3 linked regions of the Homo sapiens genome follow. The protein of the gene in region 1 interacts with the protein of each later gene in a pairwise test. Each region holds a gene or a part of one and is shown in the gene's direction. Other genes may lie near its edges.

Evidence for each region. Proteins that work in one complex are often made in the same cells at the same time.
Region 2: the proteins of ATXN10 (region 1) and CENPV interact in binary tests that used the Homo sapiens proteins (3 or more experiments, as listed by UniProt).
Region 3: the proteins of ATXN10 (region 1) and DIP2A interact in binary tests that used the Homo sapiens proteins (3 or more experiments, as listed by UniProt).

What each region holds. Positions count from the first base shown.
Region 1 is NC_000022.11:45,688,832-45,695,861, forward strand, and holds part of ATXN10 (ataxin-10), read left to right. Parts: intron 1-880; coding exon 881-1,072; intron 1,073-4,164; coding exon 4,165-4,247; intron 4,248-7,030. UniProt on the Homo sapiens protein: May play a role in the regulation of cytokinesis. May play a role in signaling by stimulating protein glycosylation. Induces neuritogenesis by activating the Ras-MAP kinase pathway and is necessary for the survival of cerebellar neurons.
Region 2 is NC_000017.11:16,343,443-16,350,472, reverse strand, and holds part of CENPV (centromere protein V), read left to right. Parts: intron 1-443; coding exon 444-542; intron 543-1,787; coding exon 1,788-1,857; intron 1,858-5,761; coding exon 5,762-5,876; intron 5,877-7,030. UniProt on the Homo sapiens protein: Required for distribution of pericentromeric heterochromatin in interphase nuclei and for centromere formation and organization, chromosome alignment and cytokinesis.
Region 3 is NC_000021.9:46,461,888-46,468,917, forward strand, and holds part of DIP2A (disco-interacting protein 2 homolog A), read left to right. Parts: intron 1-583; exon of another isoform or gene 584-635; intron 636-824; exon of another isoform or gene 825-876; intron 877-1,178; exon of another isoform or gene 1,179-1,341; intron 1,342-7,030. UniProt on the Homo sapiens protein: Catalyzes the de novo synthesis of acetyl-CoA in vitro. Promotes acetylation of CTTN, possibly by providing the acetyl donor, ensuring correct dendritic spine morphology and synaptic transmission.

The sequences.
Region 1 (7,030 bases):
CTAACGTTAAAAGAGATTTGCTGTTTCTTTAGGGGATTTATGGAATGAGGAAGTTGGCTTGCATTTAGGTGCAATGTTGCACAAAAAATTCTTATCTTTAGAGCTCTGGAATGATAGCCAGTGCAGGCAGTACTCCTGGCATGAGAGGCACGCAGAGACTGAGATGCCCAGAGGGTACAACCACAGGTTCATCTTTCTCCCTGGGCATACATTCTTGGTGGAAGAACAGGCACACTTTACATTCTCCCCCTCTCCTTTCTCTCCCATCTATGTAGTTGACTGTAGAAGTTTGGTGTGTGTGTTGTCAGCCTCACTGTGTCTACAGAGTAGATAGTATCCTTGTCCTACAGGAATATTGTTTCTTATAACTGAACTTAGCTACATATTGGGTGACAGAGGACCAGAATATATTCTCTGTCTAGAACATTAAATAAAGATACTCTGTTCTGATTCAGGGTAGATCCATAAGCATGAGCAGTCACTGGAACTGGGATTTGGGTTGTCATGGGTAGTGGAAGTGCTCAGGCCAGAGTGCTTCACTTGGCCTTGTGTCTCTGCCAGTTACTGGCTGAGTGATTTGTGCAAGTTACTTACCATCTCTACTTCACTTACCTTATCTGTAAATGGAGAGGACAGTGTTGGCCTCATAAGGCTGTTGCAGAGACTGAGATAATACATGAGAAGTGACAAGAACAGTGTCTGGTGCATAGTAAGTGCTCAATATGTGTAGATCTTTTATTTGGTGTTGTAAATTAAGGAGCTAAAGCAGATAAACGTAGCGTACCTCCCCACAATAGTAGATAAAAGCAGTTTTCTGAATAGGACATTTGGAAATCATAATCTTTTTTTTCTGATTCGTGATAATTTTATCCTTTTTCAGAGAAACAGCACCCAGGACTATCTTCCAAAGAGTTCTGGATATCCTAAAGAAATCTTCTCATGCTGTTGAGCTTGCCTGCAGAGATCCATCCCAAGTGGAAAACCTGGCTTCCAGTCTGCAGTTAATAACAGAATGCTTCAGGTGTCTTCGCAATGCTTGCATAGAGTGTTCTGTGAACCAGAATTCAATCAGGTAGTTACACACGTACCTTGGATTCTGTTTCTTTGTATATGTGCATGCTGGTTCTGTCATTTGGTTTATCTGTTAGAAGTTGTTTTGGGCTGGGTAAGGTGGCTCATGCCTGTAATCCCAGCATTTTGGGAGGCTGAGGCAGGAGGATTGCTTGAGTCCAGGAGTTCAAGACCGGCCTGGGCAACATGGTGAGACCCTGTCTCTACAAAAAAAATACAAAAAATTAGCTGGACATGGTGGCGCACACCTGTAGTCCCAACTGCTCAGGAGACTGAGGTGGGAGGATTGCTTGGGCCAGGGAGAGGCAGAGGTTGCAGTAATCTGAGATGATGCCATTGCTGCAGGCTGGGCCACATTGTGAGACCCTGTCTCAGGGAAAAAAAAAAAAAAAAAGTTGTTCTGGCATGATAGTATCACCCACTGTTATTGCAGGATTGCCCTTTACATCTGCTGGGAGAGGCCCTCTACAGGCCTTGCCATTGGAGTCTCTCTGACTAGTGTATAAAATAATGGAGTGTGTTTAACATTAGGGGTTAGATTTCTTGTTTGTTTTTATCACATGTTTTGAGGTATTTGGTTCTTCATAGTGTTTTGAAGCTGATTTTGAGTCTTTGTTCCTAGATTTTACCTGCCTAAGTTTATATGCAGTTCTTGACCTCAGGTTGTAAATGTTTTAATTACTTTTAATGTTTTAATTTGTTACTCTTGTGTTTGGACAAGAAGCATATTTTGTAAATTTACAAGATGACCTGTCTTTCCTAAAGATCATGTAAAGTTCCAAGCTCTGCTTCCACCTATTTTATGATGCGCACATTTTTAAAAGTAGTTAAAACATGAGCAGGCGAGCTGTCCAGTGCTCTTCTTTGCTTTTACGTGTTACCGTCTCCTCCCAGAACACAGCATCTTTCTTCTTTGATTTTGTGGAACCTGCTTTTTATTAAAAATTTTTACTTGAAGTCAGAAGCCACAAACAGGATGCTCACTTTCCTTCCTGGACTTGGATGTAGACAGAGCCTCCAGGCTTCCCTGTCACCACTGTGACGGGTAAGCTTGGGCTGGTCCAGAAGCCACTTGAGGGACTCCCTTCGGTTAGACACATATACCCGAGGCTTTGATATGATTAATGAGATTTTTAAGATCAAAGGAGAGAGGGTAAAAAGTGAGTCGTGTAACTTCAATACTAAACCAAACCTGCCATCCATTTGAGGATAAATGGATAGAAACAACAATAATCTTGATAATAATAGTCTACATTCTAAAACATAACTAGTTATATGCTAGAAGCATCTGGCCAGAAGGCTAGTTTCTTTTGTCCTTTTCCAGTCACAAGGTGCTCTAGTGTGATGGGGAAGGAAAGGAGAGCCGTAGAACTAACTTTTGACTGTGGCTGGCAGATACACCTTTGTGCTTGGCTAATCTTGGTGGGGAAGGGAGTGAGCATTCGTTGAGCCTGCCTTCGGCATTGGGCTTTGTCCCAAGGGTTTTGCTTGTAGTATCTTCTTTAATTCTTAGAACAAACTCAAGAAATTTTTTCATTTTTACAAAAGATGAAACTGTAACTTGGAGAGGTTAAATAACTTGTCTGAGAGTCACTTGTTAAGTGAGAGAGGCTGGGAACATTCTCTCCATATCCAGACATCTGACTCTAAAGCTTAAGCTTAACAAGCAGTCTGCCCTTACTGTTCTGAGCTTAAGCTCAAAAGCAGTCTGGGCCAGGCGCGGTGGCTCACGCCTGTAATCCCAACACTTTGGGAGGCCGAGGCGGGTGAATCATGAGGTCAGGAGTTCGAGACCAGCCTGGCCAGCATGGTGAAACCCTGTCTCTACTAAAAATAAAAAATTAGCTGGGTGTGGTGGCACACACCTGTAGTCCCAGCTACTCTGGAGGCTGAGGCAGGAGAATCACTTGAACGGGGAAAGCGGAGGTTGCAGTGAGCCAAGATTGGGCTACTGCACTTCAGCCTGGGCAACAGAGTGAGACTCCGTCTCAAAAAAAAAAATGCAGTCTACCCTTGCTGTCCTGAGCCTTACACACTGGTCTTGTTGTGGATGACTGCTCCATCTTGACCCTGGACAGGTGACTTGGTCTTCCTGAGTATCAGTTTTGTCCTCTGTAAAACTAGGTAAGCAATGTCTTCCAAACAGGCTGGTTATGGGGTGTAAATGAGATTACTTATGTAAATGCCTAATGCACATTGTGTGCTCAGTAAACATTAAATGTTTCTGCCTCTGCCTCAGGAATGAATGTACAACACAAGTTTATGTTAATACTTTCTTTCAAAGCAGTCAATTTTTATTTTCTTTTTTGAGTAATATATGCAAACTATAAAAATTCTAACATTACAAAAATAAATACTATGACAAGTAAGTTATCGGTGGTCTTTTGGTAGGGCCAGCAAAGCAAGGGCTGTGCTGTTTGTGATATCTTTTTATTGCATGCAACTTATGGTTGGGCGGAAATGAAAATGAACATTTAAGGGTGTTAATTTTTCTGCCTCTTCCCTTCTAGGATTGTATTATTATTCACTGTTGATTTTTAAAGGAAAATTTCAACCATTTAGGGCAGCAATTTTCAGAAAAGAATTTTCTAGTTAGAAATACTACAAAGATTCTAGTAAAGACTTTGTGGCCAAGCTTAACTAAGGCCAGTATTTCTGAGCCAGTCAAGATTCAGATTGCAACTAGTACATATTTTTCTGATGTTTTACTTTAAGTCGTTAAAGAGTTCATCAAAAGGTGTGATGCTATTAAAGCCTAGATCTTTTTACATCTTTTGCACTTTGTGTGGACTGGGACTGTTTTTGCCAAGAATGCATGGAATGGGGTAAAATACAATAAAGCAAAGAATCTGAGTCATGGGAAACTTCAGGAAGTACTCAAAGAAAGCTGTTGGAAGCAGTTAGCTCTGCATGTAAATATAACCTCTACTGCTAGGGTTGCTATATTTTTCCTGTAAAGAGCCAGATAATAAATAATTTAGGCTTTGTAATCTCTGTCAGATTTCTCAGCTCTCCCATTGTAGTGCAAAAACAGCCATAGACAATATATGAATGAATGAACATGTCTAATTTTGTCTTTTTTAAAAAACCCAGGAACTTGGATACGATTGGTGTTGCTGTTGATTTGATTCTTCTGTTTCGTGAACTGCGAGTGGAACAGGAATCTCTGTTGACAGGTAGCATGCAATATAATTCATGGATTATTTATATCTTTATAAAGGGTTCAAAACCAGTACTTTGAGTATTAACATCATTCATTGAAACACATGTTCTGTATTTCATGAGATAGGGAAACTTTAATAGTGAATTATTAAAGAATTATAAAGTTGTATCAACTTCCCTTCCTGAATGGCTGAATTTTGTTCCTTTCACATTTGTATGTTGAAGTCTGTCTGTTCCAGTTGCTATAACAAAATGCCTTAGGCTGGGTAGTTTATAAACAACAGAAATGTATTGCTTACAGTTCTGGAGGCTGGAAAGTCCAAGATTAAGGTACCAGCAGATTGGGTGTTTTGCGGGGGCTGCTCTCGTCTTCATAGATGGTGCCTCTTGCTTTGTTCTCCTGTGGTGGAAGGTGGAAGGCAGAAGGCATAAACAAGCTCTCTGGGCCCCTTTTATAAGGGCACTAATCCCATTCACGAGGGCTGCACCATCATGACCTAGTCACTTCCCAAAGGCCCCATCTTATACTAGCAAGTTGGGGATTAGATTTCAGCATAGGAATTTCGGAGGGGCACAGATATTCAGATCATAGCATGGTCCTAACCCCCAATACCCAGAATGTGACTGAATTTGGAGATAGGATCTTTAAAGAGGTAATTAAGGTAAAATGAGGGTATATGACTGGTATCCTTATAGGAAGAGGAAATTAGGACATGGCCATGCTCAGAGTAGAGACCATGTGAAGACACAGGGAGAAGATGACCATCTACAGGCCAAGGAGCGAGACCTCAGAAGAAATCAGCCCTCTCGACACCTTGATCTTGGACCTCCAGCCACCAGAACTGTGTAAAAATAAATGTCTGTTGTTTAAGCCATTCAGTCTGTGGTAAGACTTTTAATATTTATGAATGTGACAGGCCCTGGTCCAGGTTTTGGGTGTGATTCAAACAGTGACCAAAACAGACAAAAAGTGTCTGTCCTTAGAGAACTCACATTCCGTTGAGGGGAACCACATGTTAAGTGTCTAAGTCAAGTATCTAGTGTGATGAAAATGGAACTTAGCTCTGATTGTTAACGGTTGTTGACTTGGGATTAAGAGAAACACCACACTTCTTTAGACTCATTAGTAGAATGGTTTTGGTCTTTGTTCTTCTAGCATCAACATCTTTCCTTTGGACAGTGGTTATTATCTTAACATAATGTTTAAAAAAAAAACGTAGATTTTTAATTTATGATCTCTTTGTGCCAGGAATTGAAATACTTTATGGGTAAACCTAAATTATTTGATAAAAAAATCTTAATGTAGGCTGGGTGCCGTGGCTCATGCCTGTAATTCTAGCACTTGGAGAGGCCAAGGTGGACAGATTGCTTGAGCTCAGGTGTTTGAGACCAGCCTGGGTAACATGGTGAAACCCCGTTTCCAAAAAAATACAAAGGCTGGGTGCAGTGGCTCAAGCCTGTAATCCCAGCACTTTGGGAGGCTGAGGCGGGCGGATCATTTGAGGTCAGGAGTTCAAGACCAGCCTGGCCAACATGGTGAAACCCCCTCTCTACTAAAAATACAAAAATTAGCTGGGTGTGATGGCGCATGCTTGTGATCCCAGCTACTCAGGAGGCTGAGGCAGGAGAGTTGATTGAACCTAGGAGATGGAGGTTGTAGTGAGCCGAGATCGTGCCATTGCACTCCAGCCTGGGTGACAAGAGTGAAATTCTGTCTCGAAAAAAAAAAGAACCGGGCATGGTGGCACACGCCTGTAGTCGCAGCTACTTGGAGGCTGAGGTAGGAAGATTGCTTGAGCCTGGGAGGTGGAAGTTGCAGTGAGCTGAGATCACGCCGCTGCACTCCAGCCTGGGTGACAGAGCAAGACTCTGTCTCAAAAAAAAAAAAAAAAAAAAAAAAAACAAAACCCCAGAAAATTTTAATGTAAATTTCCAGGTGGATAAGTTAGATGTACTAAATTATAGGTTAAATTTTGTTGTTGTTGGCTGGGCGCAGTGGCTCACGCCTGTAATCCCAGCACTTTGGGAGGCTGAAGTGGGCGGATCACGAGGTCAGGAGATCTACCTGGCTAACACGGTGAAACCCCGTCTCTAGTAAAAATACAAAAAATTAGCCGGGCATGGTGGTGGGCACCTGTAGTCCCAGCTACTGGGGAGGCTGAGGCAGGAGAATGGCATGCACCCAGGAGGCAGAGCTTGCAGTGAGCCGAGATTGCCGCCACTGAACTCCAGCCTGGGCGACAGAGCGAGACTCCACCTCAAAAAAAAAAAAAAAAATTGTCATTGTAATAACGTCTTTACCTTATAATTCAATGAATATAACCTTTAAATGAGAAGTCTCCAGTTGCATTTAAAATATTATTTGACTTACAAATTGTTTTATATACAGTTTTAATGCCTGTACTTTGCATATAACATGAGGCATATTTCTTTTTTTTTTTTTGAGATGGAGTCTTACTCTGTCGCCCAGGCTGGAGTGCAGTGGTGCGATATTGGCTCGCTGCAACCACCGCCTTCCCGCCGGGTTCAAGCGATTCTCCTGCCTCAGCCTCCCGAGTAGCTGGGATTACAGGCGCCTGCCGCCGCACTCGGCTGATTTTTTGTATTTTTTTATTAGAGATGGGGTTTCACCTTGGCCAGGCAGGTCTTGAACTCCTGACCTCATAATCTACCCACCTCGGCCTCTCAAAGTGCTGGGATTACAGGCATGAACCACCGCACCTGGCCACGTGAGGCATATTTCTATTGATGTTAATATGTGTGCTTCTCTTGGTAGATAGACAAGAACTAGAGGTGA
Region 2 (7,030 bases), on another chromosome or scaffold:
ACTTGGGAGGCTAAGGCTGGAGAATTGCTTCAACCCAGGTGGCAGAGGTTGCAGTGAGCCAAGATCGTGCCACCGTACTCCAGCCTGGGCAATAGACTGAGACTCCATCTCAAAAAAAAAAAAAAAAATTTAGTATTTGACATATAAATAAAAATGTCTGGTGGTGGGTTAGGATCCCTCACATTTTCGAAATGTTTGGAATGTTTTATTTTGCAACTTAATATAATTTAAGAAATTGGTGAAAAGAGAGCTCATGGACAAAGAAGGTGCTGAAACCATTCTTCACTTAGGAAATTGACAGTGCCTCCTTAAAAGCAGAAATGCATCTGGTTGTCATGTAGAAAAGACTTTTGTCTAATCTTCTGTCTTTCTTTCAGCAACAAAAAGAGAGCAGGAGGCAGCTATTCAGAAATTATTATCTTTCTGATTTTTGTTTCATTTAGTGAATACCAGGGCCTGGTGAAGCACACAGGAGGCTGCCACTGTGGAGCAGTTCGTTTTGAAGTTTGGGCCTCAGCAGACTTGCATATATTTGACTGCAAGTGAGTATTTTTTTTTCCCTAAATTGGCTTAAAAGAATTTCAGAGTTAAAATGCAATATTTCAAAATAATCTGGGGAGTTGGGGTACAGAGGAAACATTGGCCTTGGGCTGGTAACTGTTGAAGTCAGGTGATGGGGACAGAAAGGTTCATTGTTCTATTTTTGTTCCTTTTATATGGCTCATCACAGAGCTTCAACAGCATGGCCCAGGTGACACAGAGCAGGGTCCTCAGGGCTTGTGGCTTGTGGCAGCATCACCCTCAGACTGACACTGCTGAGGAGCCGGGGGCGGTTAGCTGCAGGTGTGCCTGGCTGGGTACTGAGTGGAAAGCCTTGGGCAGAATCTTCATAGAAGTCTAGAGTTGGGGAGAGTTGGAGGGTATGTTAGTAAAGGGTGTATACACCTGGAGGCTCCCCAGGCCCTCCACTCTCGCTCTGCTCTTCGGTTGAGGCAGATGGCACTGCTGGCTGTGGAGGGCCTGATTTGTACCACCTTCCCCGGCGTTATGATGGAGCAGGGACGACAGGCTCTGGCTTTGGGACCCAAAGTTGGCATGCAGCTAATTATTTAACAGCATCCAGTCCTTTTTGCCCCTAGGTACCGGAATTATATATGAATAATAAGCACATACGATGGAATTACTCAAATGGAGAACTGACCAGGCTACTAACAATAGAGTCCAGATTGGAAAAGAAGCACTGTGGAATAACTTGTGAGAGGATTCTGTGCTAAATTAGAACTTTTTCAAAGGTGGCCTGAAAAGAGGGGACTTCAGTTTAATTCCAGAGATGGTAATTCTGGGGACGTGTTTTACTTGGAGCTGGACTTCTTGTGACGTGGTGATGAAGAAAGAGGGAAACCTAAACTTCCTTGTCCATTTTTGGTGTGGATGTCTCAGAGACATCAGGTTGTAGCAGTGTCTGAAATTTGTTTCCTAAGTGTCTCTGAAGTCCAGCGCTTCTCTTCACTGTAAAGAACTGAGGGGTGGGCAGTACAGACCTGTCTGTTGGTCCTGTGTTCTGAGCATTGCAGAACCTCGACTGCTGACTTGGGACCCCCCTGGGCTCTGCTGTACCTGCAAACCAGAGGCACTGCTATCCAGGCCTTTGCCCCAGCTCCTCGGCCCTGGATGGTGCTGAAAGGGGCATCATCTGTGGGGTCGGCTGGCTCTCATGGCTGGGCCGCTCAGGCATAGAGGATGCAGGTGGCTGCTCACAATCTGGAATTTGCTCTGTCTTTCTGTAGTTGCAGCATTTGCAAGAAGAAGCAGAATAGACACTTCATTGTTCCAGCTTCTCGCTTCAAGCTCCTGAAGGTCAGTGCTTAAGAGCAGGGTCAAGGAGTGCAGAACCCATTGGTGAGATTTACAGGACCCCCCACCCAACTGTTAGCATGCCGTCTGTAGCATGGGAGGGGCCTGGAGCATAGCAGGGCCTCTCACGGGCTTTGGTTTCAGGTTGACATTTAAAAGGTGGGCCCGGCACAGTGGCTCACGCCTGTAATCCCAGCACTTTGGGAGGCCAAGATGGATGGATCACCTGAAGTCAGGAGTTGAGGACCAGCCTGGCCAACATGGTGAAACCCTATCTCTACTAAAAATACAAAAATTAGCTGGGCGTTGTAGTGCATGCCTGTAATCCCAGCTACTTGGGAGGCCAAGGCAGGAGAATCACTTGAACCTGGGAGGTGGAGGTTGCAGTGAGCCGAGATCACACCATTGCACTCCAGCCTGGGTGACGAGTGAAACTCCATCTCAAAAAAAATGAAAATAAAAAATAAAAGGTTGTGTTATTTTTTACCTTTATTTTTTGGAGGCCTATTTGGTATTGTGGAAACATTTTCAAATTCAGAGAATCAAAAAACAATAAAATCACCCAAATCCTGTCAACTAAAGGTAACCACTGTTAATATTTTGGTGTCTGTCTTTGTGTATTATTTTCTACTCTGAGAAATACATCTAAACCTATTGTCTTATGTTTATTAAGTAGAATTTTACCATTCTTTTTGTTGATAAACTGCTTATCTCATTTCCCAATGAAAAGCTTATATACTTATTTGTAACTTTAATTTTATTATTTTGGGGAATTTTTTGTACTTGGTACAAAATTTGAAAGGTAGAAGAAAATGTGTATATACACAGTGAAAAATCTTTCCCTACTGTCCCCATGCCCCAGTCTCCCTCTTCCCCACAGCCGATTTCCTGGTCTACTTACCCCATCACTGTCTCTGCATCATTGCAGTTGAGTCCCGTTTTTTTCTGATTATCAACAACACTGGTGAACCTCCTTGGTATACATTTTTGACAATTTAGAAATTTCTTCTTTAGGATCAATTCTCTTAGAAATAAGTTCTCTGGCTATTCTGGGCACACTTCCTACACCCTGCTCTACAAGGAGCAGTTAAAAAAAAAGAGAGAAAGAAAATCTCCAGGTTAAAGAATACAGATTTTTTAAAAAAGACTTTTAGCACATTATGGGTAATGTGGGGTTGGGCGGGGCTTTAATTCCATCCAGATAATGCTGGATGGCTTGGGACCACTTGGCAGTCCTTCGCTGCTTTTCTGTGCTGCAGTGGCTATGGAGTGAGCAAGGCTCCTCAGGGAGCTATTTCTATAGGAAGCACAATTCTGGACGGTATGGCTGGGGAAGCGTAAAGAGGGTTAACAAGGATAAGAAACCTCCACCCCTTCCCCTTCAGCTGTCTGATTTCTCTCCCTAAAGGTAAGCCACTGTTTCTTGGATCCCTCTTCAAAGATACATATGCATATAAAAGCACATACAGGCCAGGCACAGTAGCTCATGCCTGTAGTCCCAGCACTTTGGAAGGCCAAGGCAGGCAGATCACTTGAGCCCAGGAGTTCAACACCAGCCTGGACAACATAGCGAGACCCCCATGTCTACAAAAAATAAAAAATCGGCTAGGTGTGGTGTTGCATGCCTATAGTCCCAGGTACTCGGGAGGCTGAGGTGGGAGAATCACTTGATCCTGGGAGGTCAAGGCTGCAGTAAGCTGTCGTCATACCACTGCACTCCAGCCTGGATAACAGAGTGAGATCTTGTCTCAAAAAAACAAAACAAAACAAAACAAAAACACCACACATACCAGTATATAGCCTTAAAAAAAAAAAAAGAAATGGTAGCATACCACGTACGTTGTTTTATACCTTGCTTAACTTTTTTTTTGAGACAGTCTCACTCTGTTGCCCAGGCTGGAGTGCAGTGGTGTGATCTCGGCTCACTGTAACCTCCGCCTCCCAGGCTCAAGTGATTCTCCTGCTTCAGCCTCCTGAGTAGCTGGGACTACAGGTGCCCGCCACCACATCTGGCTAATTTTTACATTTTTAGTACAGACAGGGTTTCACCATGTTGGCCAGGCTGGTCTTGAACTCCTGACCTCAAGTGATCTGCCCACCTTGGCCTCCCAAAGTGCTGGGATTACAGGCGTGAGCCACTGCGCCTGGCCTATACCTTGCTTTACTTTGTAACTTTGGCAATTGTTCCATGTTAGTTTTGTAGAGCTGTCTCATTCTTCTCAAAAGTTGGAGAATATTTCATTTTATGAGTGTCCATAATGCCTAACCGGTCCTCTATTGAGGGACATTTTCAATTTTTCCAATCTTTAGCCTTCATAAACAGTGCTATAGTATCTATATACCTATGTCATTGAGACATTTGGAATATATCTGTATAATAAATTTCAAGAAATGGAATTGTGTGCTAAAGCATATGTACACTTTAAAATTTTGGTAGATGTTGCTAAATTGTACCAATTCCTGTTCCTGTGACTGATATATGTGAGCACATATTTCTCTACATACTTGTCAATACCATGTTAACGGCTTTGATTTTGCCCACCTGACAGTGAAATACATCTCATTGAAGTTCCTTTGGTGAGCATTTCATAGGCTAAAGAGTGATTTATTTTTCTTTCTATCTGAACTGTCCGTTCATGTCCTTTGTCCAGTCTCCCGTTTGTATTATCCATTAAGGAAATTAGCCTGTCTATGACGTCTGGCAAATATTTTTTTCCTGGTTTGTCCTTTGTGGATAAATTAAGCACAGCCATCAGTTTTCTTAAGACCTTGAGCCGTTCTGTTTGGGGACATGGAGAGCCAGTCCCTTGGGTGAACTGTCTCTCCACATAGGCCCTGGGAAGCAAGCACTTTCCCTCCCTGATGTGATGTATCAGGGAAGGCTCAAGGCTGAATTCTGTATGCCGTTGACCTAAGGGAAGCTGTGAGCTGTCACGCTCCAGACTGACATGTCTCTGGATAGTGTAGATGGGTCTCTGTCCTCAAGAAGGTCCCAGTCTCTTCTGGAGATAGGAAATGGCCTCTTAGTACAAAGAGCCCTACAGAAGAGCTCCTGCCATTAAGTTATTTCAAGATTTTTTTTTTTAATGGTGCGATCTCAGCCCACTGCAGCCTCTACTTCCCCAGGCTCAACTGATGCTCCTACCTCAGCCTCCCAGGTAGCTGGGACTACAGATGTGTGCCACTGCACCTGGCTAATTTTTATATTTTTTTGTAGAAACAGGGTTTTGCCATGTTGCCCAGGTTGGTCTTGAACTCCTGGGCTCAAGCAATCCGCCTGCCTCGGCCTCAAAGTGTTGGGATTACAGGCATGAGCCACCATGCCTGGCCAAAGGTGTTTTTTTTTTTTTTTTTTTTGAGACGGAGTCTCGCTCTGTTGCCCAGGCTGGAGTGCCGTGGCATGATCTCGGCTCACTGCAAGCTCGGCCTTCCAGGTTCATGCCATTCTCCTGCCTCAGCCTCCCGAGTAGCTGGGACTACAGGCGCCTGCCACCACACCCGGCTACAAAGGTGTATTTTTTAAGTGACATAAAAATAAATGTCTTTGGGGCCAGGCGCAGTGGCTCACACCTGTAATCCCAGCACTTTGGGAGGCCAAGGTGGGTGAATCATGAGGTCAGGAGTTCGAGACCAACCTGGCCAACATGGTGAAACCCTGTCTGTACTAAAAATACAAAAAATTAGCTGGGCATGGGGGCACGCGCCTATAATCCCAGCTACTTGGGAGGCTGAGGCAGGAAAATCTCTTGAACCCATGCAGGTGGAGGTTGCAGTGAGCCAAGATTGCGCCACTGCACTCCAGCCTGAGAGACAGTGGGAGACTCTGTCTCAATAAATAAATAAATAAATAAATTAAATAAATAAATCTCTTTGTAAAAAAGAATACCGTTTGTCTGTTTTCACCTAGGGAGCTGAGCACATAACGACTTACACGTTCAATACTCACAAAGCCCAGCATACCTTCTGTAAGAGATGTGGCGTTCAGAGCTTCTATACTCCACGATCAAACCCCGGAGGCTTCGGTGAGTAAAGGGGATGGACTGCAAGCTCAGGGGGACACAGAGAGGCCCATGGTGCTCTCATTTAAAGTCTTATTTGGACAGGTGGGATGCTGACTAGACCCTGTCACATGCGTATCTTAGAGGAACAGGGCTCCTCAGCAGAGCGCTTTCCACATGATAGAATGTGAGTCGGGCTCCGGTGAAACTTTTCTGAATCCCATATCTGAATGTGGTGAAGTTGGACTTGGAGCCCATCCAGGTTGTGATTCTTATTCACTGGTGCTGGTAGAGCTGGTGTTGCTGGGGATGGTGTTGAAGGGTAGGGAGGAGAGGGGTGAGGAGATGGGCTTGTGGGGCCAGGGGAGGCAGCTTTAATAATGACAGGGGTTAAGGGAGTGAAGGAGGCAAGATTGGGGAGCATTGATAATGGCATTTGAAAGCTTTTTGGTTGTTCAAAAATTAGGCAGGACTGGCTGGCTGCGGTGGCTCACACCTGTATCCCAGCACTTTGGGAGGCCAAGGTGGGAGGATTTCTTGAGCTCAGGAGTTTGAGACCAGCCTGGGAAACATAGCAAAACCGTATCTCTGTTCTTTTTAAAAAATAATAAACAAGCAGGGAACCCTCCAAGCCCCGCTTCAGGGCCTGCTTGGGTCTGGGGAGTAATAAAACTAACCCTCTGACAGTTGTTGAGAATCATACCAACTATAGTGTGAATTGAAGGGGAAAGCAGAGGTGGAAGATGTTCTGAGGACTCTTGTTGTGTCAGTGCAGCCTCCAGAGCTGCGAGAGCAGCTATGACTGTCAGTGTCTTTTGCCTTATGGTGGTGGGGAGCGGACAGGGGAGGTGGGGGAGGCAGGGCAGGGCAGGATGTCATCCTTACCGCTCCCCCATTGCTTCAGGGCCTCCTGTTCCTCATCTGTCACATGGAGACTCCTTCCTGTCTACCTTGCAGAACAGGAAAGAGTTGAAAAGTATGAAATCCTGTGCAAATGGGAAGACATTTAATTCTTAGAAAGTTATCTATCTGAGGCCAGGCATGGTGGCTCACCTGAGGTCGGGAGTTCGAGACCAGCCTAACCAACATGGAGAAACCCCATCTTTACTAAAAATGCAAAATTAGCCAGGCTTGGTGGCGCACGCCTGTATTCCCAGCTACTTGGGAGGCTGAGGCAG
Region 3 (7,030 bases), on another chromosome or scaffold:
TGCCTCTTCCAAAAAAAAAAAAAAATTGGCTGGGCATGGTGGTGTGTGCCTGTAGTCCCAGCTACTTGAGGGGCCGAGGTGGGAGGATCACCTGACGAGGTTGTGAGCCTTTATAGTGTCACTGCATTCCAGCCTGGGAGACAGAGTGGGACCTTGTCTCAAAAAAAAGTGTTAAAGGGAAGACAGCAGAGAACAGAGTAGTAGAGTGGCAGCCAAGGAGGTGGAAGCTCTGGCTTCTTGGCTTCTTTCCCTGCTCCTAGACTGGCCTGACACTTTTCTTTTGGCCAAAATAGGTCAGTGATTACTTAGGCACAGTCACACGTGGACCTGCTTCCAGGGCGCTTCCACAGGTTAATGCTGGCTTATGTAGTTTATGTGGTGGTTGTTGTTGACGTGGGCTCTCCCTGTTGGATTTGGAGATGCTTACTGGTAAGGACTTTGTTTTAGGCAGATTTTTGGCTTCTTCACACAGTGGTGGGCATCTGGTAAAGTGTCTGTGAATCTCCTGTGGATTACAATGTCTCTAAACGTGGGTTTAGTTAGCTGTAAAAGGGGGTGAATACCAGCTTTATTGACATTCCAGGTTTATTGTCAAGATTCAGTCACATAGTGTGTGTGAAAATGCTTCGAAACTGGTAAGGTGTTTTATTTATATAATTAAAGGGAGATATTAGTAATGAGTTATAGTCCTAAAACAACCAACATTAGTGTTTCATTGTTATAATTTTTATATATTGTCAAAATAGTGTAACTTTTTTATAGCATTCACATTTATCTAAGTGAGAAATTGCCTAAAACTTAAGAGTTGTCACTGTGCTTGGTAGGTTGGAAGAAGAAGCTTAACAGTGACAAAGATGCTGTCTTCAACAGAAACTGGTAATGAGTGATACCTGAATAATCTAGAAAATCCTGCATGCCTTCCCCTCAGCCTGTTGAAAGTATCCTCTGCCTTTCTTCATACCTCACACCTGGCCTTATTCTCCAGCATCCTCACTGCATTCTCATCATCAACCATAGTGATTGGCGTTGGCCCTGAGGGAAGGTTCTGGTAGAATGCTATGATTTATTTCCATAGGGCAAGTTTGCTGAATTTCTGTTATAGATTCCCAAGAGGGAAATAAGGCATAGCTGTGTTCTTGCTCCTTAACTTTTCTGGCTGTTTTGCCCTCTTGACTTAGGAGTCTGCTTCAGATTAAGATGAAGATGAAGAGTAGAAGTACATGGAACCCCACTCTTCTTAGACCCCCTGCCCCCCAATCATGAACACATACAGAAGAATTCATATGTGTGGTTCCTGAAAACCTATCAGGATGTTCATTGATGGAAGTGAGATCATTAGAGGTATAACCTTGATATTTAAAAAAGAATTAATTCCCAAACCTTTGTGCTTTGCCTGTTGCTGTAACAAATTACCTTGGACACACCTCACAGCTGATTTTGGCACACCAGTGCTGTACGTGTCTTGGAGCTATTGCTGCTGAACTGCTTTAAAAACATGGACAGTGGTATTTTGTTCTTTGTTTTAATAGACTACAGTGGGTTAGAGAGGAAATTCCTACACAATAGGCTACCTTTATCCCATTCCAATTACTTTATTCTGGTTAATAGGTCTATTCCATAGCTTTAACTTTAGTCTTTTTCTTGATTTCTTATATTCTAACAATGCAGGACTTCTAGTCTAGATGGAATAAAATGAAAAGGGGGAAAAAACTCTGGGTATACAGGAAGAGACTTCTCTCACAAAGCTTTTTTCCTCTTTAACTGTCTTTAATTTCTAAAATCTGGGATATATTTGTGTGTGTGTGTGTGTGTGTGTGTGTGTGTGTGTGTGTATATTTTGAGACGGAGTCTCACTCTGTTGCCCAGTCTGGAGTTCAGTGGCGCGATCTCGGCTCACTGCAGCCTCCACCTCCCGGGTTCAAGCAATTGTCCTGTCTTAGCCTCCTGAGTAGCTGGGATTACAGGCACACGCCATCACGCCTGGCTAGTTTTTTGTATCTTTAGTAGAGACAGGATTTCACCATATTGGCCAGGCTGGTCTTGAACTCCTGACCTCGTGATCCACCTGCCTCGGCCTCCCAAAGTGCTGGGATTACAGGCATGAGCCATCGCGCCTGGCCCATAATTCTTAATTTTCAAAATGACAGCCTGTCATTGCCTTTGTGTTAATAAACATTTGTTGTGCTTCTTGAATATTTTGTGGTATATAAAAGTTCTCATGTTCAGCCAGGCGCAGTGGCTCACACCTGTAATCCCAGCACTTTGGGAGGCTGAGGCGGGTGGATCACCTGAGGTTAGGAGTTCCAGACCAGCCTGACCAACATGGTGAAACCCCATCTCTACTAAATACAAAAAATTAGCCGGGCGTGGTGGCGTATGCCTGTAATCCCAGCTACTTGGGAGGCTGAGGCAGGAGAACCACTTGAACCTGGGAGGCAGAGGTTGCAGTGAGCCGAGATTGCACCATTGCACTCCAGCCTGGGCAACAAGAGCGAAACTTCGTCTCAAAAAAAGAAAAACGTTCTCATGTTCAGATTCTACTCATCTGTCAAAGGCCACCCCAAATGCTCTCTATCTTAGTCTATTTTGTGTTGTGTTTGTGTTCTATAACAGAACACCACATATAGGTAATTTACAAAGAAAAATTTATTTCTCACAGTTCCAGAGGATGGAAGTCCAATATTAAGGTACTAGCATCTAGCAAGGACTTTCTTGGCCTGTCATCCCATGGTGGAAGGTGAGAAGGCAAGAGAATGTGTGGACGAGAGAGGAAGGGGGCCAAAATCATCCTTTTGTCTGGAACGCATTCCTGATAACTAACCTGTCCCTGCGATAACAGCATTAATCCACTGATCATCTCTTAAAGGTTCTGCCGCTCAACACTGCTGCATTGGGCACTGAGTTTCTTCCTTTTTCTTAATATTCATGTCTTTTTTTTTTTTTTTTTTTTTTTTTTTCAAGAAAACACACAACAAATGTCAGAATATGAGATAGGGAAGTTCTCCTGGAACAGCATGTAGATTATTTTCTAGAGCACTTTAGTTAAATGGTACTTAATGATGATAATTCTTCTGAACACAATTCAGAATTTGAACCAATATTTGTTGTTTCAGGAAAGCAGAATTTCCTTTGAATGATGGATAAGAATGGTGAGGATCTTTATAATATAGAATAAATTGCTGAAAAGAAACTTTGAGGGAATATTCAAAGCACCCTCTTATTTTGAACCTTCCTTGATCATCTCTAATGTGACTGCTTTCTCAGAACTTCCATATCATTTGTCCCCTCTTTTGGAGTTCTTGCTGCTTTTTGTTTTTGTATTTGTTTTCACTTATTCAGTAATTATTCAGTGTCCACTGCATCCTAGGTAATATTTCAGCTGTCAAAAGTCAGATTTTGGCTGGGCATGGTGGCTCACTCCTGTAATCCCAACACTTTGGGAGGCCGAGGTGGTTGGATCACCTGAGGTCTGGAGTTCGAGACCAGCCTGACCAACATGACAAAACCCCGTTGCTACTAAATATAACAAAAAAAAAATTAGCTGGTCATGGTGGCACGTGCCTGTAATCCCAGCTACGTGGGAGGCTGAGGCAGGAGAATCGCTCAAACCCAGGAGGCAGAGGGAGACTATTTTTATAATGATACTAAGATGCCATTTCTGTTTTCACTGTGTTGACACTTGTACTGATGGTCCAAAAGCAGTAATAGGGAAAACTGCTGGGCACTTTAACGTAAATTGAGGCAGGGACTCCAAGTGTCACTGATAGTCATTATATTATTCGCTACCTCTCCACTTGCAGTTTTAAAAAAACAAAAAGGGCTGCTTTCACTTAAACAGACCCTGATGAAGCAGTAAAAATTAAAAAAAAAAATTGGCCTTTTGTCTTTTCATGAGGAAATGGGAAGTACATGAATTGCTTTTGCTGCACAAAGAGGTACAGTGCCTGTTTTGAGAAACAGCAATTGTGTAGTTTGAGTTGCAAAGCGAACTAGCTGCTTTTATTGTGAAATGCCATTTTTGCTTGAAAAAGTGGGTAGCAGACAATCTGCAGTTATTGAGACTTGGGTATTTGGTGGACGTTTTCTGGAAAATAAATGAGAGGAAATAACTGACAATTTATGACCAATGATAATATTTGTGCTTTCAAGCAAAAATCAAAATTTTGAAAAAATTTATCTGCTACAGTGAGCTTGACAGTTTCTCAATAGTTAACGACTTCTTTGATGAGATTGGTGACAATATAATGAATGAGTATTTGATATTATATAATTAAATGTGTCAGCATTTGGAAGATCCACATAATTTTGTGAACTAATATTTTCCAGCTCACCATTGCACCACGTTACAAAGTCATAGTGCATGGGTAAAAGATTCATTCAAAAGATAGACCAATGGATTTTAATGTAGTGATATGAAAAGTTCACTGATAAGAGTTATAGATTCTACATTATAACTTTTTTTTTTTTTTTTTTTTTTTTGAGATGGAGTCTTGCTCTGTCTCCCAGGCTGGAGTGCAGTGGCGCGATCTCAGCTCACTGCAACCTCTGCCTCCCAGGTTGAAGTGATTCTCCTACCTCAGCCTCCTGAGTAGCTGGGATTACAGGTGCCTGCCACCATGCCTGGCTAATTTTTGTATTTTTAGTAGAGATTGGGTTTCACGTGTTGGTCAGGCTGGTCTCGAACTCCTGACCTCGTGATCCGCCCGCATTGATCTCCTAAAGTGCTGGGATTACAGGCCTGAGCCACCACTCCCGGCCACAACTTTTTTTTTTTAAGAGACTCCCCCTTGCCTGGTTTTGGTGTTGTATCAAGGAAGAATGTCCACAGTGATCTGAAAAGGCTGCTGAGACACCCCACCTTTTTCCAACTGCATGTCTCTCTGAAAAAGGATTTGATTCATAGACTTCAACCAAAAAAACCACACAGTACAACAGATTGGATACAGGAGCAGGTATGAGAATCCATATTGTCTTCTCTGAAGCCAGAGTTAAAGCAACTTGCAAAAATGTAAAAGAATACCTCTTCTTACTAAATGTTTTTGTTTTCAGAAATCTTTTATTTTTAGTAAAAAATATTATTTACCTTAATATCTAGTCAGTTTATTATTAAAAATTTTAAATGAGTTAGGCCGGGCGCGGTGGCTCACGCCTGTAATCCCAGCACTTTGGGAAGTCGAGGCGGGCGGATCACGAGGTCAGGAGGTCGAGACCATCCTGGCTAACACAGCGAAATCCTGTCTCTACTAAAAATACAAAAAATCAGCCGGGCGTGGTGGTGGGTGCCTGTAGTCCCAGCTGCTCGGGAGGCTGAGGCAGGAGAATGGCGTGAACCTGGGAGGCGGAGGTTGCAGTGAGCCGATATCGCACCGCTGCACTCCAGCCTGGGCTACAGAGCGAGACTCCGTCTCAAAAAAAAAAAAAAAAAAATTTAAATGAGTTAAATATTTAAAAAATTTCACAGTATTAGTTTTGTTTGTTTGTTTGTTTGTTTGTTTTTTAAGATAGTGTCTCGCTCTGTTGCCCAGTTGGGAGTGCAGTGGTGTGAGGATAGCTCACTGCTGCCTTTAACTCCTGGGTTCAAATGATCTTCTTGCCTCAGTCTCTTGAATAACTAGAACATAGTAGCTGAAAGACATGGATGTCATCATCTATTTCTTTATATTTTTTGTAACATTTTAAAGCTATTGCCTAGTTTAATAATTATTTCAGTTTGTGTATGTAAGGACAATCAGGCATTTAAATTTATAAAACATGTTTGAAAATCTTTAAAAGTTACACTTACTGACTAGTTGCTTGTCTGTTGCACTAACAAAATTTATTATTCATGTTTCGGGAATACCCTCTTTAGGTTTTGTTTGTTTTTTTTTTCATAGTAAATTATCCCAGTACAAGTGTCTTTGTACAAAATTTTGATTTCTAAGTTTCTTTAAAAATATCAATGCCAGCTGGGCCCAGTGGCTCACACCTATAATCCCAGCACTTTGGGAGGTCGAAGAGGATGGCTGAGGAGGTTGGATCGTTTGAACTCAGGAGTTTGGGATCAGCCTGAGTGACATGGTGAAACCCCATCTCTGCTAAAAAATATGAAAATTAGGGCTGGGTGCAGTGGCTCATGCCTGTAATCCCAGCAGTTTGGGAGGCCGAGGTAGACGGATCACTTGAGGCCAGGAGTTTGAGACCAGCCTGGGCAACATGGTGAAACTCCGCCTCTACTAAATAAAAAAAAAAATTAGCCTGGCATGGGGGCAAGTACCTATAATCCCAGCTACTCGGGAGACTGAGGCAGGAGAATCTCTTGAACCCAGGAGCCGGAGGCTGCAGTGAGCTGAGATTGTGCCACTGCACTCCAGCCTGGGTGACAGTGAGACTGTCTCAAAAAAAAAAAAAAAAAAAAGCTGGGTGTGGTGGTGCACGCCTATAATCCCAGCTACTCTGATGGCTGAGGCAGGGAGAACCGCTTGAACCTGGGAGGTGGAGGCTGCAGTGACCTGAAATTGCACCACTGCACTCCATGATACCCTGTCTAAAAAAAAAAAAAAAAGAGAGAAAATCGGCGCCAGAACAAATCCTACACAAGCCCACTTGTGTCAGAAATTTAAAATAGTCAGACTCATAGAAGCAGAGAGTAGAATGGTGGTTGCCAGAGACTGGGGTGGTGGGAGAATCTGGAAGGTGTTGATCAAAGGGTATATAGTTTCAGTTATACAGGATGAGTAACTGCTAGAGAGCTGCTGTACAGCATAGTGCATATAGTTAACAATACTGTATTGTATATTTAAAAATTTGTTAAGAGAGTAGAGCTCATGTTAAATGTTCTTATCACAAACAGGAAAGGAAGAAACTTTTAGAGATGATGTTTATGTTTATGTTTATGGTGATGGTTTCACAGGGATATACTTACCTTTAAATTCATCAAAATTTATATATTAAATATGCACGAGTTCTTATAGGTTAATCATGTCGATTTAAAAAAAGAAATATCAGTGATTTCAATTTTAATATCCTAAAACTTTAAACATGCTTCATTGCC